3 separate regions of the Homo sapiens genome follow, and regions 2 and 3 are each linked to region 1. The links come from fine-mapping of genetic effects on gene expression. A gene starts in region 1. Each other region holds a variant in brackets. All regions are shown on one strand. Distances are between the middles of the regions. Region 1 holds the start of LTO1 (LTO1 maturation factor of ABCE1). Region 2 has its middle 73 kb from the start of LINC01488. Region 3 overlaps CCND1 (cyclin D1).

Region 1 (6,931 bases):
TCTATTTAATTTCATCCACCAAAAACATTTTTTTATGCTTATAACATAACTTATGTTCATTGTGCAAACAAACATGAGATGTTCCAAAAAATATAAATGAGGACATTAAAAAAATCACTGTCATTCCAAAATCTAGCTATATTCTCTATGAACATTTTGCTGTACTTGCTTTCACTCTTTTTTCTCTTCCTTTTTTCTTTTCTGGTTTTTTGTTTGTTTGTTTGTTTGTTTGTTTTGTTTGAGATAGGGTCTCGTTCTGTTGCCCAGGCTGGAGTGCAGTGGCACGATCACGGTTTACTGCAGCCTCAATTTCCTGAGAACAAGCAATCCTCTCGCCTTAGCCTCCCAAGTAGCTGGGACTACAGGAGCACACTACCGTGCCTGGCTAATTTTTTCTATTTTTTTGTAGAGATGAAGTCTCACTATGTTACCTAGCTTGGTCTTGAACTCTGGGTTCAAGCAATCTTTCCACCTTGGCCTCCCAAAGTGTTGGATTATACGTGTGAGTCACCTCACCTGGCTACTCTCATTCTTTTGAAATAGTGTTTAGTGTGATTGCAATTCGAGTATATGTAGAGTGTTTTTTTTTCTTTTTCTTTTTCTTTCTTTTTATGTTTTTGAGATGAGATTTCACTCTGTTGCCCTGGCCTGGCTGCAGTGGAGTGGTATGGTCATAGCTCACTGCAGCCTCACATAGAGGATTTTTTTTTCTTTTTCTTGAAATATCATGGGCATTTTCCATGATGTTACTTTTGTTGAAATATTATTTGTAATGGTTGCTTAGGAGTCTTCAACATGAATAGCCTACAATACATGTCATAATTCCACCATTTTGTCAATGTAGCTGCTTTCCTTGCCTTGCCTTTTACAAATCGTGTTGCACTGAACAACACTGTACATAATATTTTGACTTGTCTTTGATTATTTCCTAGAGATGAAGTCTTAGAAGTGAAATGACTAGGTCCAGGGGCAAAAAAAAACTTTTTTATTCTATTTTTGAGGCAGAGTCTCATTCTGTCGCCCAGTCTGGAGTGCAGTGGCACAATCTCGGCTCACTGCAACCTCCACCTCCCAGGTTCAAGCAATTCTCCTGCCTCAGCCTCTAGAATAGCTGGGACTACAGGAGCGTGCCACCACACCCGGCTAATTTTTGTTTTTAGTAGAGACGAAGTTTCACTGTTTGGCCAGGCTGATCTGGAACTGGTGACCTCAGGTGATCCACCCACCTTGACTTCCCAAAGTGCTGGGATTACAGGCGTGACCCACCACGCCTAGCTAGTAAAAACAAACAAACAAACAAACAAACAAACAAACAAAATATATATATATATAATGCCCTTCCTATGTTTTTGAACTGCCTGACCAAGAGGTGTCTTCAATGTATGCACTTGTGCTCATTAAGAGTATCTTTTAATTCTAAAAAAGGAGAAAAAGAACTTAAGCTATTTTAAAAGATAAAAAATGCATCTCATTATTCTTTCTCAGCATTGCTTTGGTTACTAGTGAGGCTGCGTCTGCTTTTCCTGATTGGCCAGCTGTTGCTCTTTCTGTGAATAATGTTTCAAGTCCTTTTTTTTCCCCGTTAGGATGTATTTATTTAAATAAATACATGTATTTAAATAAACTCTTTACCAGAATTATTATTTCTTTAGTTACAATATTTATGACAAATATTTCCCCATATTGTTCTTTAACTTTAAATTTTGTTTCTTATCACTTTTGGTACACACAAGTTTGCATTTTTACATGGTAAAATGTTGGTTTTGCTTGCTGAGAATTCCTTCATGGCTTTTATGTGTTAAAAGAGCATCTTCATACTTGTCTGAATGTTCCACCTAGATTTTTTAATGTACTTTATTTTATTTATTTATTTATTTATTTTTATTTTATTTTATTTTTTTTGAGATAGAGTCTCGCTCTGTCACCCAGGCTGGAGTAGAGTAGCGCGATCTCGGCTCATTGCAAGCTCCACTTCCCAGGTTCATGCCATTCTCCTGCCTCAGCCTCCCAAGTAGCTGGGACTACAGGTACACGTCACCATGCCCCACTAATTTTTTTTTTTTGTATTTTTTGGTAGAGACGGGGTTTCACCATGTTAGCCAGGATGGTCTCGATCTCCTGACCTCATGATCCGCCCGCCTCGGCCTCCCAAAGTGCTGGGATTACAGGCAAAATGTGCTTTATTCATTTATTTATTTAGAGATGGAGTTTTGCTCTTGTTGCCCAGGCTGGGGTGCAATGGTGTGATCTCGGCTCACTGCAACCTCTGTCTCCTGGGTTCTCCTGCCTCAGCCTCCCGAGTAGCTGGGCTTACAGGCATGCACCACCACGCCAGGCTAATTTTGTAGTTTTAGTACAGACGGGGTTTCTCCATGTTGGTCAGGCTGGTCTCGAACTCCCTAACTCTGGTTATCCACCTGCCTGGGCCTCCCAAAGTGCTGGGATTACAGGCGTGAGCCACCGTGCCCAGCCAATGTGCTTAATTTTTTTAAGTTAACTCTTTAACTCATCTGGAATTATTTTGATGAATGGTGTGAGGCATAAATGGAACCAAGCTTTTCCCAAACAACCAATTTTCCATTATAGTTATTAGTTAATATTTCCTTTCTCCAATTAATTTGTAATTCTTCTTTTTACCACATGAGAAGGCTTTACATCTATGAGAGTCCATTGTCTGGGCCATTTACTTTATTTCACTGGTCTGCCACTTCTTGAACCAACATACCACAATATTTATATTGACACTTTATCTTTTCATATCTGATATGAAAATCATTTTTTTCTAAAACATCTTAGTTATTTTTATTAGTTTATTCATACGGATGAAAAAGTTTAGGATTTTGACACATTTTACCAGATCTCATGGAATTTTCTTTGGTACTGCACTTGTTCAGTTCCCCAATCCTCAATCATGGTAGAGCTGTAGTTTTCCTTATATGGGTCCTGCTCAAATTGTTAGAAATTCTTATTTCTAAGAAATGTATTATGACTATCATAAGGCGATTTTCCCATCACCACCCCTGCTCAGGTTACTACCAATTATTGTTGGAATAACAGAAAGTGTTTTTTTCCCTATTCATCATACACATAGCTACTTGCTGCGATTATGGATTCTGAGAACGTCTTAGGTGACTATTTGGGTTTTCCACGTGGGCCATCATATCTGCAAATAGTAGTATTTCTGCCTTTTTTTTTTTTTTTTTTTTTTTTTGGTATTTCCACTTCTTGCTTCATGTTTTACTGCATTGGCCAGGGCTGGTAGAAAGATGTTCAGTGGTCACGTGAGGTTTTACTACTGACTTTATTAGGAATGCTTCTGGTGTTTCTCATCTGAGTTCCGTTGTCGCTTAGACTTTGAAATCCCTTTTTAAAAATCGTGTTCAGAAAGCACATCTCATGGAAATGACAAATATGAGAACTAAAACCGACAAATTTCTGCCCAAAATCCCACATGCAGAGCCTCCTGGCCTGGAGCCTCCTGAGGCGTCGGTTCTTTGATGACTTCCCATTTCTTTTCCCTTTTTTTTTTTTTTTTTGACGGAGTCTGGCTCTGTCGCCAGTCTGGAGTGCAGTGGTGCGATCTCGGCTCACTGCAACCTCCGCCTCCCAGCTTCCAGTGATTCTCCTGCCTCAGCCTCCCGAGTAGCTGGGATTACAGGCGCCTGCCACCATGCCCGGCTAATTTTTGTATTTTCAGTAAAGACGAGGTTTCACCATGTTGGCCAGGCTGGTCTCGAACTCCCGAACTCAGGTGATCCGCGCGCCTCGGCCTCCCAAAGTGCTGGGATGACAGGCGTGAGCCACCGCGCCAGCTGATGACTTCCCATTTCTTCCTTGGTTCTTTCGGAGCCACTTTGGGAAATTCGGTTCTATCTGCAGTGGTAAAATACAGGTCGGCTCTCCACGCGCGCGGCCAATGGACGCTCCCAGCGCGGACAGACAGGCCCTTTGCTGGAGCTGGGCAGGGCGAAAGGACCCCAGGGCGGGGCTTCAGTCGAGGCCGGCCCCGCCCACCGCTGCAGCCGCGCATGCGCCATGTACAGGCTGCTTTGGGCCCTCCCGCGTGCCGTTCTTACCCGGCCTGCCCCGCGCCGCCGCTTCCGGAAGTGGGTCTCGTCTCCTCCCAAGCGGAGCATTTGTGCCTGAAGCTGCCGGGTCTGCTACGGCACCGCGGGGCTGCAGAAACCCGGGGGCCAAGGGCGGGCTGCTTGCCGCTATGGCTGGCAGTCAGGACATATTCGATGCCATCGTGATGGCGGATGAGAGGTGGGTGGTGAGGCCGGGCCCGCACCCCGCCCTGTCTGGTCGTCTCCCAGCGGCTTCGCCGCCGGCTGCGGCCCAGGGCGGCTGCTGGAGCCTGGCGTCCCTTGGGCGTGCGCATTGGGGAGCGCCTGGTGGCCGTGGACGCAGGGACAAGTGTGGGCCTGATGCTCTGGTCCTCTTCTCCTGGCCCGCTCCGGCGGGGCACGTGCCCAGCTGCTCTTCCAGACCCGCCTTCCCTGTCAGGGCTGCCCCAAACATCTGCTCAGCCTGGTGGTTCCCCTCCTCCGAGGCCGCCTCGTCCTCTGGGAGGACAGACCTTTGCCATCTGGGAGCTGCCTTTTTTTCTGGTTCCTTAATCATAGGACATACGGCAGTATTCATGGATGTGCTGATAGATGTACCCGACCACACCCCTTTTCCCTCCAGAGCCCCTGGGGAGCCCCTCGTGCTGCGACAGTGGGGGAGCTGTGAGTTGCCTCCTGGCTGACTTCCAGTGCCCGGCCCAGAGGACGCGTCCATAGATGTTAGTTAAGAAAGCGGCCGAACATTTAGCAGTCAGGCGCTGACGTTTATTTAGCTCGCGCTGTGAGTCAGACACTGAGCTAAACGTTCCACCCTGGTTATCTACTTCAGCCCTACTTAGTAAGTGGATCCTATTATTCTTCGGAATTTACAGACTAGGAGGCACAGTCACTTTCCAGGGTCACACAACTATTAAGTGGGGAGCTATGCACCCTGCTTCATGGGGCGCTGCAGCCCACTCCTTGCATGTTTGGTGACTGCAGGTTAAGATAGTGGCAGTTCCACTGTTGGGCCTCAGGGTCAGTGCTACTCCGGGTACCAGTCGGAGAACATTTTGTGGTGATCTGATGCCATTTCTCTCTGTTGCCCTACCCATGTGATGTCAAACCCTGTGTATGTTGCAGTTTTTTGGAAGCGGTTGACTTGGGCTAGTGCTACTTGAACACTCACAGAACTTTGGCCCCCTAACTCTGGCTGCAAACCAGACTTATCTAGGAGACTTTGAAAAGTAGATTCCGGGCCAGATGCGGTGGCTGACGCCTGTAATCCCAGCACTTTGGGAGGCCGAGGCGGGCGGATCACGAGGTCAGGAGATCCAGACCATCCTAGCTAACATGGTGAAACCCCGTCTCTACTAAAAATACAAAAAATTAGCCGGATGTGGTGGTGGGCGCCTGTAGTCTCAGCTACTTGGGAGGCTGAGGCAGGAGAGCGTGAACCCGGGAAGCAGAGCTTGCAGTGAGCCGAGATCGCACCACTGCACTCCAGCCTGGGCGACAAAGCGAGACTCCATCTCAAGAAAAGAAAAGTGGATTGCAGGCCAGGTGCGGTGGCCCTCACTTGTAATCCCAACACTTGGAGCGGCCAAAGCTGGAGGATCGCTTGAGCCCAGGAGTTTGAGGCTATAGTGAGCTGTGATCATACCACTGCACTCCAGGCAGGGCAACAGAGACCCTGTCTCAAAAAAAAAAAAAAAAAAAAGGAAGAAAGAAAAGTAGATTCCAGGGCCTTGCTCCAGACGTACTGAATCTCTGGGGGTGAGGCTTTTGAGTTAATATCTTTGAATTTTCCTTGTGTGTTTCTAGTACCCTATCAGGTTTGGGAATCCCTAATTTAGCCCTTTGTTGTAGATGAAGAAACTGGGCTACAAGAGGTACAGTGACTTCCAGAGGCAAATAGGAAGTGGTAGATCTGGGACTGGAATCTGTGTCTTCTGACTTGAATTTTAGGCTTTTCCTCCTTTACTCTGGTTTGTCTTACTGGGTCCGGGTAATACAAGAGAGAGAAGTTTTTCTGGAGAAAGTATTCTTTCTCCTGTTGATTTGATGAAGCATGCTTCTTCTTCACAGGTTTCATGGGGAAGGGTATCGGGAAGGCTATGAAGAAGGCAGTAGTTTGGGTGTGATGGAGGGAAGGCAGCATGGCACGCTGCATGGAGCCAAAATCGGGTCTGAGGTAAGTGGGAACCCCCATCTGGAGATGAAGCCTCTTCATTTACAATTTATAATTTATTTCGATATTCAGTGTGATGGAGTAAGAATTGTCAGGCCTTTTAAAATCACAGTGCCGGATGGGCGCGGTGACTCACACCTGTAATCCCAGCACTTTGGGAGTCTGAGGTGGGTGGATCGCCTTGAGGTCAGGAGTTGGAGACCAGCCTGACCAACATGGTGAAACCCTGTCTCTACTAAAAATACTGAATTAGCTGGGCATGGTGGTGCATGCCTGTAATCCCAGCCACTTGGGAGGCTGAGGTATGAGACTCGCTTGAACCTGGGAGGCAGAGGTTGTGGTAAGCCGGGACCGTGCCATTGCACTGCAGCCTGGGCGACAGGATGAAACTCCATCTCCAAAAAATAAACAAAAAAAATCACAGTGCCTTTGCATGGGAGTTAATGGACTAGATGGACTGTTGCTGGAGAAATATTCTTAGTACAGAACCAAGAGTGCATTTTGCTGTAGGTAGATACAATTAAATTATGCATGCTGGATAAAAGAAAACAAGTCCCTGGTCTCCTTAGTTTACTTGGGAGTGTCATGGTGCTGGCTCATGTACTAAGCCAAAGAATGGGTGCCCTCTGTCATGTGAACATATTCCATTTATGTTTACGTTGAAATTTCATTAACTTTATGATTTTTTTTTTTC
Region 2 (6,931 bases), 120 kb after region 1:
GTAAGGTGGGAAACTAAACCCCCCATATAGAGGAGGGAATGGAGGCCTCAGAGCAGACGGACCTGGAATGGAGTCTTGCCTCCTATGTTTGTGGCCCTGTTTCCCGGGAATTGGAAATGGTGCTGTAAAGTGCCTGGTATGGGGAGGTGAACCTGCAGGCCGGTATTGTTGTGACTTCGCTCTCCCTCTTGGTAGCAGCCACCGTCAGTGTGTTCAGAAGCATCCAGCTGCCATGTTTTGGGTACAGTTCCCATGTCTTCTCCAAATCCCATGTTGGAATTAGACCCCCAAGCTTGGAGGAGGGTCCTGGTGGGAGTTGTTTGGGTCATGGAGGCGAATCCTTCATGAATGACTTGGTGCGTTCTCCTGGTAATGAGTGAGTTCTCACTATTAGTTTGTGTGAGAACTGATGGTTGAAGATCTGGGCCCTCTGCTCTCTCTTCCTTCCTCTCTCGCCAGCTTCCCATTGCCTTCTGCCAAGGTGAGTGGAAGCTTCCTGAGGCCTCACCAGAAGCAGATGCCAGCACCATGATTCCTGTACAGCCTGCAGAACCATGAGCCAAATGAACCTCTTTTCTTAGCAATTACCCAGCCTCAAGTATTCCTTTATAGCAATACAACTGAACAAAGACCCCAGGCCAAAGGCGGAGGGGATTTCGAGGCTCTAGGGTCCAAGAAGTGGGCAGGCCTAGCCCCCTCTAGGCACAGGCTTGGATCTTTTTAAATTTTGAATAAGACTGGAAATGATTTCTCTCTCTTTTTTTTTTTTTTTTTTTGAGATAGAGTCTTGTTCTGTCGCCCAGGCTGGAGCGCAGTGATCTCAGCTCGCTGCAACTTCCGCCTCCTGGGTTCAAGAAATTCTCTTGTCTCAGCCTCCTGAGTAGCTGGAATTACAGGCATGCACCACCATGCCCAGCTATTTTTTGTACTTTTAGTACAGACTGGTTTTGCCATGTGGGCCAGGCTGGTCTCGAACTCCTGACCTCAGGTGATCCACCCGCCTCAGCCTCCGAAAGTGCTGGGATTCCAGGTGTGAGCCACCATTCCCGGCCCTGATTTCTGTTTGCAATGTTGTGCAACCACTCCTCCACAGCAGTGAAACAGGTGACATTACAACCCCACTTTCAGGAAGTGGAAACTGAGGCTCAGAGAGACTGAGTGCTGTATCCCAGGTGGCTGGGCTAGTGAGGAGCAGAGCTGGGGTGTTTGGGTTTGTGCTCAGGGGAGTGTCCTCTAGGGCCCTTCTGGGCTGCTGAGGGAGCAGAGCCGGCTGCACAGGCGAGCCCAGCGTGCCTAGACGGGCCTGCACCTGCTGCAATGCCCTGCGATCACCATCTTGAAATTCTTACTAGGGTTTGAACAAGGGATCTTGCATTTTCATTTTGCACTAGCCCAGCAAATGATGTAAGAACAGGGGAAGGAACTGAGAGACAGCCACCTGGGGACCAGGGCCCTCATCCTGGTTCTCTGTGTGGCCTTAATCAGCTGTCTACCACTCCCTCTTGCCTTGGTCTCCCCGTCTGCAAGATGAAGGAACAGGGCTAGATTGGGATTCCCTCATGTATATTTCATGGAACACTGATACCTCATGGTTCACTGAGACAAAGTCCCTCCAAAAAGTGAGTTTGTGAAACGGTGCAAATTTTTCTCTTGGAAAAATCCAGGGCAGTTTTGCATATTCAGGGATCTGTGTAGACTTGAAACAACAACAACAAAAAGCCTTCTTTAAAAAAAATGGCATTAGTATTTTCCAAATATATTAGATCACAAAAGCCTTCAGCAAAGTGGGATATCGGCCGGGCGCAGTGGCTCACACCTGTAATCCCAGCACTTTGGGAGGCCGAGGAGGGCGGATCGCTTGAGGTCAGGAGTTCCAGGCCAGCCTGGCCAACATGGTGAAACCCTGTCTCTACTAAAATACAAAAATTAGCTGAGCGTGGTGGCGGGCGCCTGTAATCCCAGTTACTCCGGAGGCTGAGACAGGAGAATTGCTTGAACCTGGGAGGCGGAGGTTGTGGTGAACCGAGATCGCGCCACTGCACTCCAGCCTGAGCAACAGAGCGAGACTCTGTCTCAAAAAAAAAAAAAAAAAAAAAGTGGGCTATCTACAAAATATCCCCAGAGAAATGCTAGACTAACACACTTTTGAACTCTTTTCCAGTATTCAGGGCAAACCTTCTGCCTTCCTTTTACTATCCCCTGGATTGACCGTGTCATGCAGGAAATTCAGAGACAGACCCCGCAGGCATGTATGGAACGAGCACAGAACAACTGGCAGCCCTGAAGGAGGATCTGGGGACAGGGAAGGGGCTCGAACGGTCCTCTGCTCCCATTTTTCAGCCCTTCCTCGGACCCAGAACAGCAGACCAGAATCACCTTTCACCCATGGAAAGGGGCTGGCACTCCAGGGATCTGTCCTGCTTGCTTTGGGCGGTCACTAGATCCCTCTGCCACATTTAGGGTCACTCCTCAGAGCACATGACCCCTCTGGAATCCTGAAGCTGCCCAGGGTAGGGCGGCACTGAGGCGGAAGCAGTGTGACCCTCCTGGGTCGGCTGGGCCTTTGACAGCTGATGTTTCACGGGATACTCATTCCTGCATGGCTCAGCTGCCTGAGGGCTGCCCCACCACTTCCCTGAGCTAATGTTGCCAGTGTGAAATTCCAGATTTGACCCTGAACTTCCTAGCTGGGTTTTAAAAAGGTTTGTTTGTAAGATGCACGGAGCATTGTTGGCCATCTTTTCATGGGCTCTTTGGCCATTTGTATAGCTCCTTTGGAGAAATGTCTGTTCAATTCCTCTGCCAATTTCAAAATTAGGTTGTCTTTTTTTTTTTTTTTTTTTTTTTTTTTTGAGAGACGGAGTCTTGCTCTTTCGCCCAGGGCGGACTGCAGTGGTGCTATCTCTGCTCACTGCAACCTCCACCTCCCGGGTTCACGCCATTCTCCTGCCCCAGCCTCCCAAGTAGCTGGGACTACAGGCGCCCACCACCACACCCAGCTAATTTTTTGTATTTTTAGTAGAGACAGGGTTTCACCGTGTTAGCCAGGATGGTCTCGATCTCCTGACCTCTTGATCCGCCCACCTCGGCCTCCCAAAGTGCTGGGATTACAGGCGTGGGCCACCGCACCCGGCTAGGTTGTCCTTTTTATTGCATCTTCTCGGGGGTCATCACCGTTGTTGAGCCTCATGAGACACACACAAAGTCTCCCTTCGCAGCATGTATGTTTATCCTGTGGTGCAGTGGTGGGCTCTGGCCAGGCAGGAGCCGGGGGAATGAGGGGCCTGCACAAATCTTG[C/T]TTTCCCAGGTGGGAGTGGGGCTGGCAACAGCTGGGGGCATGGTGGGGAAAGGAGTCAGGGGCCAGTGGATGGACACTCAAGCGGGGCAATGTGGCCCCTGGCTCCAACACGGCCTGGTCATCTTCTTATGATTCCCATACATTCATTCATAGTGTTGGCACAAAGGGGCTGTCCTCACTCCTCTGGCTCCTGCAGTGAGGTGGTAGCAACACAGCAGTGCATAGAGGTTGCGCCCCTGGGAGGGCCCTGGGCAGGGAAACGGGAGCCTGGGCTCTAGGTCCCGCTCCTCCACTTGCAGTCCCATCACATTGGGCTCCTCATCTAGAACTGCGGGATGACCCTCACTTTCCTGCTTCCCGACTATGGAGAGGCACAGGTGAGAACACCCGTGACAGCATGGGGCCAACCTCAGCTACTGCTGTGTGCGTGTGTGGAGGAACGTGGCTGCTGTGTTCCGGCCCCAGCACAGGCACCCCCACTCCACATCCATAACCAGGCCCCACGGCTTAATCACCCTGCCACATGCACCCTTTTTGGCCAAGACAGGACTTCACAGCAGGGGACCATCTGAAACAGGGAGGCCTCAAAGTAAGACCCAGGGGGTGGACCCTGGGAGGGCAGGGCCTGGTGGTGGGGAGGGGCCTGGTGGCAGAGCCCCAGCAAGTTTCTCCAGAGCTTTGACAGAGGAAGAGGTGTCTGGGGAAGGTCTACCTGGGGCTGGGCCTGGCCAAGGGCTGGAGCCAGGTAGCGGAAAGACTGACTTCACCTTCACCTACTTGGACTTAAGCAGAGGGTCTGGACCTGGCATACAGAGGACTAGCCCAAGGTCAAGGCCGGAGACATGGCTGGGACCTGGCTGGCCTCTTCCTGACATTGGAAGCCATGGCCCAGGGCATGTCAGACTTAAGGGTAGCCACGACGTAGGACATGAGGGAGGGACCTTGGGGATTTCTAGGGCCAGCACCCTCAGACTTTCTAGCAAAACTCTGGCCTTTGCTCCCTCCCAATGCTTCTGATTCCTATACATTCATTCAGTCATTCAACAAACATCTGTGGACAGGAATGCTGGGGACACAGCTCTGAACAAGAAAAACTCAGCCCTGGCCTTGGGCGCTTGCCTTCTAGGGTGAGACAACGATAAGTAAGCAACCACGACACAGGAAGAGACTTGTCGGGGAGTGGAAGTGCTCCCAGGAGCATCAACTTCGCCTGTGGGCTGGGAAAGTGTGCACTGTCCCAGACAGACAGACCAGGATCTGGTGATGTTCCCAGGAGCCAGGCACGAAGGTGAAGCATCCCCAGCTCCCAGACACATGTACCTTGACAGGAAGCAAATCCTAGGCCTGAAACACCCGATACCCCAAATCCTAGGCCTGAAACACCCGATACCCCAAATCCTAGGCCTGAAATCCCTGATGCCCCAAATCCTAGGTCTGAAACCCCTGATACCCCGAATCCTAGGCCTGAAATCCCTGATGCCCCAAATCCTAGGCCTGAAACACCCGATACCCCAAATCCTAGGTCTGAAATCCCCGATACCCCAAATCCTAGGCCTGAAATCCCCAATGCCCCAAATCCTAGGCCTGAAATCCCTGATGCCCCAAATCCTAGGCCTGAAACACCCGATACCCCAAATCCTAGGCCTGAAACCCCCGATACCCCAAATCCTAGGCCTGAAATCCCCGATGCCCCAAATCCTAGGCCTGAAATCCCCGATGCCCCAAATCCTAGGCCTGAAATCCCCGATGCCCCAAATCCTAGGCCTGAAATCCCCGATGCCCTAAATCCTAGGCCTGAAACCCACGATGCCCCAAATCCTAGGCCTGACACACCCCATACCCCAAATCCTAGGCCTGAAACCCCTGATGCCGCAGTCCTAACTCCGGGAAGCAAATAAAGACTTCCTGCCAGAGGACTTAGAAAGTGGGAGCGTTTACTGATGCTCTTTCTGCTCATTGGTCATTATTGTGCTTCTCAACAGTATCAAACAGTGAAACTTAAGAGTTTGAGCGGCCTTGCCTCCTGGATCTTGTCTTTGCCTTTAGAATTGTAATTATAGGATGTGTGTGATTTTTTTCCCACTTAACATGTCGTGAATATTTTCCATGTCTATGTAATCCTTTAAAAGCTATTTACAATGATTACATAATGTTTGGGACGTGTCATGATTTGCTTTCCATTTTACCTCCTGTTAGATGCCAAGGTCATAGGGTGGAGTCTCAGACCCACCCCAGCCTGGTTTATCATTTCATTGCCCTCAGCAGGAGCCACGCCGAAGTGTCAGATGTACCTCACCTGCCTCTTCCTCCTGAAGGATCTTAGGCTTTCAGCACAGGAGGGGGGTTAGGGATCTTCTGTTCCCATCCTTTTATTTTCTCAGCTGAGAAAACTCAAGACCTTGTCCAAGATCACAGGGCAAGTGAGTGATAATCCCTCTATGGTGAAAATGATGGAACTGCACTGAAATACATCAAAGAGTGGAAGGATTTCTTTTTGTACTGGAACTGTGCTGAATCTGTATACAATTTGGGGGAGAACCATACCTCTAAGATACTGAGTCTTTTATCAAAAAAATGCTCATCCGGGCGTGGTGGCTCATGCCTATAATCCCAGCACTTTGGGAAGCTGAGACGGGGGGATCATGAGGTCAAGAGATTGAGATCATCCTGGCCAACATGGTGAAATCCCATCTCTACTAAAAACACAAAAATTAGCCAGGCGTGGTGGTGCACTCCTGTAATCCCAATTACTCAGGAGGCTGAGCCAGGAGAATCACTTGAACCCAGGAGGCGGAGGTTGCAGTGAGCCAAGATTGTGCCTCTGCACTCCAGCTTGGCAACAAAGTGAGACTCCGTCAAAAAAAAAAAAAGCGCCATTTGGATACATCTTTGTTAGATTTATTCCCAGTTTATTTACATATATGTATGCATCATATACCTGTGTTTGTTGATGTTGCTGTTGTAAGTGGCATCTTTTTAAGACTTGTGTTTGCTAGTTGTTGCTGCTTTATAGAAATGCAATTGAGGTTTATATGCTGGTTTTGTACCCACCCACTTTATTTAAATGTCTTATTGATAATTTTCCATAGGTTCTTTTCAGGTTTCTATGTAGACAGTATTTTCATTTGTAACTAAGAAGAGTTTTCTGTGTCTTTCTTCCTTTATATTTTCTTTTCATGTCTTACTGCACAGGTTAGCAACTCCAGTTTGGTGTTATACAGAAGAGTCTGGGACGTGGTCTTAGCAGGAATGCTTTTAATTTTTCTCCAAGCATGATGGTTATTGCAGGTATTTTTGGGAGAGGCTCTTTTGTGGTCTTAACAGGAATGCTTTTAGCTTTTCTCCAAGCATGATGGTTATTGTAGGTATTTTTGGGAGAGACTCTTTATCAGATGAAGGAAATTCCCTTCTATTCCTATTTTGCTAAAATTTTCAAACCATGATTGGATATGGACATTTATTGAATGCTTTCTTTTTCATTTACTAAGATATAATTTGCTTTTTTAATCTGTTATTGTGGTAAATTACATTAATTAGATTTTTATATCTAATTAATAGATTTAAATCTAATTAACATATTTGTATAAATCAGGCTTGTATTCCTGGGATAAACCTGACTTGTATGTGATTTAT
Region 3 (6,931 bases), 23 kb after region 1:
GGCAGTTTCCCCTATACTGTTCCCATGGTGGTGAACAAGTCTCAGCAGATCTGATGGTTTTATAGGGGTTTCCCCTTTCACTTGAGTCTCATTCTCTCTTGCCTGCTGCCATGGAAGACGGGCCTTTCGCCTTCCGCCGTGATGGTGAGGCCTCCCAGCTACGTAGAACTGTGAGTCTATTAAACCTCTTTTTCTTTATAAATTACCCAGTCTCGGGTATGTCTTTGTTAGCAGTGTGAAAACGGACTGATACAGCCTTGGAGCTCGTGGCATAACCACGATGTATAGACCCACCCATCACTGGGGGATGTACAGAACCCCCCATCGTGGCACAGCCAGGGATGGGGGGTGTACAGACCCCCCCATCGTGGCACAGCCAGGGGTGAGGGGTGTACAGACACCCCCATTGTGGCACAGCCAGGGGTGGGGTGTGTACAGACCCACCCATCACGGGATGCCACAGATGCCGAGACAGAGAGAATGGGTTGTGGGAGAGCTTGCAACTGCTTCACTCTGGGCCCAAGCCCTCTCTACACACTTGGCTGTGAACCCACCTGACCCACCCAGGGCCCCGGCCCTGCCCTGCCACCCTGCCTGAGCCCCGCGCTCAGCTCCATCTCTCCCAGTAGACATGTCGCTGCCTTTTGGCTCTGCCAGACCTATCAGCCTACACATCCCTCTTTCATCTTAAAAAACCTTCCAAACACTAAAGTAGATCCCTAGACCCATGTGCTCCTCTCCCTGCATGGCAAAGTGGCTCTCCAGCTTCTTCCCCACATCCTTGCTCAAACCTAACAGGATCCGATGGCTCCCTTGCCTGCTCCGTGAAACAACCAAAGGTGCCCTGTGCGATGGTCGGAGCTCTCTGCACAGGCCTCCTGCTACACCCATGTGCTCTCGGGGGATGAATGTAAACCCAGCTGCAGGCCGGGGGTGGGGACATGGCTTCCCTAGGACCCCAGCCCTGACACAGGACCTGGCCATTGCCTGGAACTGGAGAGCCGCAATGGTGCAGACCTGGTCCCTGCCTTCAGAGTAATTTGCCCAGGAGCAAGGAGGAGCTGGGCCTTGTGAGCCACCCGAGTGGCCACCAGTGTCACCTCTGGCTCCGACTGTCCCTTGAGCTCTTTCTGATGTGACCTGTCAGGGGCACCTTGCAGGCTCCCCCACCCACTCAATATAGGACTCCCTCGAGGAAGGCTCCCGGAGCCCCCACCCTCAGGGGAGAGGCTGGTGGAGACCTACAGGGGCCAAGCGTTTCCCTCCACACCCCACCTTCCTCCCAGGGCAGGCGCCTGTGGAGCCAACACACCGACCACCCCGGCCCCACTGTTGAGCCCTGGGAGGAGTGCTCTACAAGGCAGGAAGGGTAGACAGCAGGTGCTTCATAAAGGCCACGGAGATTCAACCTGCAGCTGACAAGTAGCACCCATCGGTGGCTTGGGACCTGAGCTTCCACTTAGCTTGGGATGAGGACAAACCAGCCTCACAGATGGGTTCAGGAGCAGTGACCAAGGTCCGAGGACACCTTCCCAGGGCACTCCCACTACCTGCCTCCACCCTGGGGTTTGAAGTTAAGTCCAGTCACGTGCACCTGAAATCCAGAGGTGGGCGTCATGGGTGTCCTATAAGGCGGCCTCCAGGTCCCCACGATCCCAGTGAAAGGCCACCCCGGATCATGGCCCTGACACGGTGCTTTGCTCTCCCGGAGCCTGGCGTCGCCAAAGGACCATGATTCATCCAGAGCAAACAGCAGTTTGCGCCAGAAGAGGGTTAACGAATGCCGGCTTTATTTATTTTCCTATCTGCAAATAACCCGGGAAGACAAACTGGTGGGGCAAGGAAGAGGGGGAAGATGTTCCCCATCAATGGGCACCGCTCACGTCACCCAGGCCGGAGCTGTTGTCTCGCGTGGTTGGAGGTGGGCTCACCCAGCCAGGCAGCCTGCAAATTATTCTCTGGAGCCTCCCGGGGACAGGACACCGCCTCCCACCTCACACACCTGTGCTGAGGGCTTCCTCCCAGTTGGGAGGGGTGTGCCTGCTCCTGGCTGGATTCTGTCCCCACCCCCGGGGATGTGGCAGTGTCAGGAGACATTCTTGGTTGTCACGGCGGGTGGCGTGACTGTCATCCCGGGGATGGAGGTCAGGATGCTGCTGAACTTCCCACAGCGCACAGGACAGGCTGCGGCCTCCCACATCCGCCAAGCCTGCCACCCTGCCCTGGTTCTAGGGCACCAGGACACGCGTCCCTGGCTCACGGCCAGCCCAGGAAGCAAAGAGGCAGGCACCACGCTGGGGTTTTACCAGTTTTATTTCTAGACTTTCATGTTTGTCTTTTTGTCTTCTGCTGGAAACATGCCGGTTACATGTTGGTGCTGGGAAGCGCCGCGGTGCAACCAGAAATGCACAGACCCAGCCGCCCGCCGCCCAGACCCTCAGACTTGCGCGTCACAGGACAGACTCCGCTGTGCCCCGTGCACTTGCCACCAGCCTTTGGCCTCTCGATACACACAACATCCAGGACTTGTGCCCTTGCCCCATCACGACAGACAAAGCGTCCCTCAAGGCCCCCGCGTGGTTCAGACAGACGCCGCAGCCAGGATGGTTGAGGTAAGCGTGAGCCGTGTTCTGGAGGGGTGGGGCGGGGTGGGCCTGTGCCCGAGATGGCCTCCGAGCACAGGATGACCCTGCCAGGGCAGGGCCCCAACCACGTGGGCCCGCAGCGGGGTGCAAATTCTTTTGGTTCGGCAGCTTGCTAGGTGACCGGGGCACACAGCACTGTGAGCTGGCTTCATTGAGATTTGGAGTCTCTTTAAATTAGCATTATGGTGTAATTAACAAAACAATAACAAACAGAACACTAGTACATAACAGATTAAACATACCCAAAACTTGAACAAATTCCAGAAGCTATTCCAATCATCCCGAATGAGAGTCCTACAGGTACAACGCCGTGGTGGCACGTAAGACACACTTGTTATAATAATAATAATAATAATTATGCAACTTCCATAGCTACACGCAAAGAATAACACAGCTGTAAAAACTACTATGATGCTACGCCCCCGATCAGATGAAGTGCCCAGCATCACAGGCGCAGGGAAGAGAAGAGGGACACAGCCTGGTCTCTGGGGACACCGGCGCGGTTCTCACGCACGCGGCCTCGGGGCCGGCCCCCGCCAGCCTGTGTGGGATCGCGCCCGCGTGTCTGCCCGCCAAAGCAGGCAGAACCTGCCCGCTGGGTCCACCATGGCTAAGTGAAGCATGAGGTATTGTGAAACAGCAACCTTTTTGGAATAGAGCAGTAATCACATTAAGTCAAAATTGATCACATAAAAAAAAAAAAAACTACAAAAAAGGCATCTGTAATACAATGTTCTAAGAGAAAACTAAAACTAGTACATGGCAGTATATGACATTGTAAAACAAAAAACTGATCCTCCAATAGCAGCAAACAATGTGAAAGAGATACACAGAAGCGATGTGAATATTTCCAAACCGTGCCTGGAAGTCAA[C/A]GGTAGCAGCGCAATAAGAAAATGGAGCTGCGGCCTGTCCCCGGTGTGGGCACCGCCCCTTCCCCTCGGGAGCCTCCTCCTCACACCTCCTCCCGCCTGTCCTCCCTCACACGTCAGCCTCCACACTCTTGCCACCTCCCTTCAACACTTCCTAAATAAAAATTACAAGAATTACATAGCCAAGATGTGCAAATTGTCTATTTTGTCACTAAGTTTTTTAAAGGAAGGGGCAGGGGATAAGAATTCATCGGAACCGAACTTAGGTTGAGTACCCTAATTTTCCTTGCACCCATGCCTGTCCAATCAGATGACTCTGGGAAACGCCAAACAGGCTGAATCAATGTCTTTGTGTGGTTTTTTTCTTCCAGATTGTTTTTTTCTCACCTATAAAAGGATCTATCTTTAAAAATAAACTGTATTAAATCTGTAACATCAAAGGCAGAAGGTTTGTGTGTGTGTGTGTGTGTGTGTGTATCTGTGTGTTTAAATCAAGGGGAGATTGCATTTATAAATCATACTGGCCTTATGAACATCCTCTGCAATAAATATACTTTTTAGCCTTAACTATAAATTATATATTTTAGTGTTTAAAAACCTTCCGGTGTGAAACATCTAAGATAACCCTTAAAAACCACCTGTTCTCTAGGTAAACCTCTGAGGTCCCTACTTTCAAACACCAGTTGGCACCAAAGGATTCCTAAACTTCAACTTCTTTAAAGAAAAGGAAAGGAACTTATCATCCTGGCAATGTGAGAATGCAAACCTTTTTCTTCTTGACTGGCACGCAGCCTCCCAAACACCCCACCTCCACTGCCACCACAGTGGCCCACACTTGCCTCAAAGTCCTGCTTGCAAACAAGTACATGGATATTCCCAAACCATTCCATTAGAAAACTGCCCTCCCTGCACACACAACAAAAACAGCGCTATTTCCTACACCTATTGGACTGAAAGTGCTTGGAAATGGAATGGTTTTAGAATATGAAGAAGAACACAAACCAAGTAGCTGTGGGTTGAACCTGGACGTGAGCTGGCTGCAGGGCCGTTGGGTAGAAAACCAGCATCTCATAAACAGGTCACTACAAAAATAGGAAGAGTATAAAAATAGAATATATTATGTCACTATTTCGTCTTCTCTTTATAGTAGCGTATCGTAGGAGTGGGACAGGTGGCCTTTCCCGACCCTGCTACGCTGGCTGGTGCCCGACAAACCTCCACTGGATGGTTTGTCACTGGATGGTTTGTTGGGGTGGTGGTCACAGGCGCAAAGGACATGCACACGGGCACGCTACGCTACTGTAACCAAGAGGTGACTTCAGCCATGAATAAGGTGAAGAGGTTACACATCTACCTACGGAATATAATAACATACAATGACTTATAAAGTGACTACATGCATATGAGCAAGCAAAGTACAGAGATGCCTAGAACCCCACTACAGCTGTGCTTTATCAGGAAAAGCACAAGAATATGTTTTTCTACCTAAAACCCTCTTCTACTTTAAAAATGGTTTGCTGAATTTTTCTATGTTTTTAAAATGTTTTTATGCTTTTTTTTAAACACGTAAAGGATGGAACCTAATCCTCTCCCGAGACGCCTCCTTTGTGTTAATGCCTATTCTTACAACAGAGAAACAAGTACATTAATATAAAAACGAGTTGATTATTGGGGTATAAAATCCTCTATCATCTGTAGCACAACCCTCCTCCCCCACCGCTCAGGGTTATGCAAATACTATTTTTTTTTTCTCTCTCTCTCTTTTAAAGACAGTTTTTGGGTAATCTTTTTCTTTTGCTTAAGTCAGAGATGGAAGGGGGAAAGAGCAAAGGAAAAAACAACCAACAACAAGGAGAATGAAGCTTTCCCTTCTGGTATCAAAATGCTCCGGAGAGGAGGGACTGTCAGGGGAGCACCTGGGGCCGGCTCCGCCCTCGCTGCGGGTGGCGGTGGCGCCCGCCTGCCTGGCGCCCTCAGATGTCCACGTCCCGCACGTCGGTGGGTGTGCAAGCCAGGTCCACCTCCTCCTCCTCCTCTTCCTCCTCCTCGGCGGCCTTGGGGTCCATGTTCTGCTGGGCCTGGCGCAGGCTTGACTCCAGCAGGGCTTCGATCTGCTCCTGGCAGGCCCGGAGGCAGTCCTGAGAGAGAGAGGGTGGGGAGAGGTGGGAAGAGGGGGTCCTTAGAAGGGGCCTGCAGCGAGGGCCCCTTCCCAGGTGCCATGACCCGGAAGCCTTTATAAGAGCAAGACTAAGCCAAAAACTGTCCCTCGGCCCATGCTGCCTCCTCTGAACCTGAGCGAGATGTGGGAGCTGCCATCACCTGTCAGGACACTCAGGACCAAATGCCTCCACCTCCCACCTGGTCTCTGGAGCCACAAGACACCAGATGCTTGCCCGCCCACCCTGCACACCCCCTGCCCGTCCCCATGTCCAACAGCGCCTTCACCGCCTGTTCCCACTGGCCGTGCCAGCTCCCTGGGGAATTCAGTGCCATCTGATCTGGACAGGAGGCCCTTTGAACCCTGCCTTTTCAGCCTTTTCAGACTTAACCTCTCCATGTGGCAGCCCTTGAGGTGAACCTGGCCTTCCATGATCAATGGCTGTCGAAGCCTTGGGCCGTGCATGACTGAGGATGAATGCTGGGTGGCCAGGGGGACCTGGACCATTGATCCCTCCCCTCCATCCTCTCCCGCTCAGGCCTGTGCCCCGGGGCCAGCCATCAGCCTGGCACAGCATGCATCCACCCACTGCGGCCACTGAGGTGCTCGCCCTCGGGTGGAGTGCGACGGACGCTCCTGGAAGTCCTGCACCTCCACCCTCTGGGGCTCCAGACTCCCTTGGCAGCGTCCACACCACACTGTCAGTGGGAAAGAGCAGCCGTGAAATCTGGAACGCCACGCCCAGCCAGGGGCCTCTCCTAGGCTCCACCACGGGCAAGTCCCACGCAGCCTGAAGTGGCTGCTTACTGCCCGGGGGCTTCTGGATGGAGAACCGGCTCCATGTGTTGGGGCTGTGTGTGTCCCAACTGCCAGGAAGCCACGCTAGGGCTTCAAGCCAAGTCTCTAGGCAGCCCAGGAAACAGACCTTCCACAAGGAGCAGGGCTGGGCCACAGCCCCACCACGTGCCGCACAGGTGCCACTTAACTCCCAACCAGAAGGGGCTGGACAAAGGCATAGCACGACAGGCGATGACCCAGGCCAGAACGACTTTTAGGTGGACCACTGAGGTCACGACATTTTAGCGCCTGTACCTTTATAGGGAGGGCTTTCCTCTCCCGCCCCTCAGATAAATTCTCATCATGGCAAATGAAGCTGGCCGGGCTGGCTGCACAAACAGTCCCACTGTACAGATGGGGAAACTGAGGCCAGAGGCCTGGGGTGAGATACAAGACTCCTGACGTTCAACCTAAAACACCAG

The links. PIP is the estimated chance that this variant, and not a neighbour inherited with it, causes the effect.
Region 2: its variant is the best candidate, but not a certain one, in a credible set for the expression of LTO1 in whole blood (TOPMed, PIP 0.85).
Region 3: its variant is the best candidate, but not a certain one, in a credible set for the expression of LTO1 in whole blood (TOPMed, PIP 0.88).

What each region holds. Positions count from the first base shown.
Region 1 is chr11:69,672,525-69,679,455 of GRCh38, reverse strand. It overlaps LTO1 (LTO1 maturation factor of ABCE1), which reads left to right and starts at 4,103. Exons shown (of 5, transcript NM_153451.3): 1 at 4,103-4,266; 2 at 6,135-6,240. The coding sequence starts at 4,217. RefSeq lists enhancers at 3,742-3,941, 3,811-4,311 and a silencer at 4,432-4,521.
Region 2 is chr11:69,550,700-69,557,630 of GRCh38, reverse strand. No RefSeq gene overlaps it. Among named protein-coding and RNA genes, the nearest start is that of LINC01488, 73 kb to the right of the region's middle. RefSeq lists cis regulatory regions at 757, 1,815, 5,281 and enhancers at 685-829, 1,743-1,887, 5,209-5,353. The variant C/T (reference allele first, on the strand shown) is at 3,299.
Region 3 is chr11:69,649,839-69,656,769 of GRCh38, reverse strand. It overlaps CCND1 (cyclin D1), which reads right to left. Exons shown (of 5, transcript NM_053056.3): 5 at 2,296-5,652. The coding sequence ends at 5,488. Among named protein-coding and RNA genes, the nearest start is that of CCND1, 12 kb to the right of the region's middle. RefSeq lists an enhancer at 903-1,840. The variant C/A (reference allele first, on the strand shown) is at 3,518.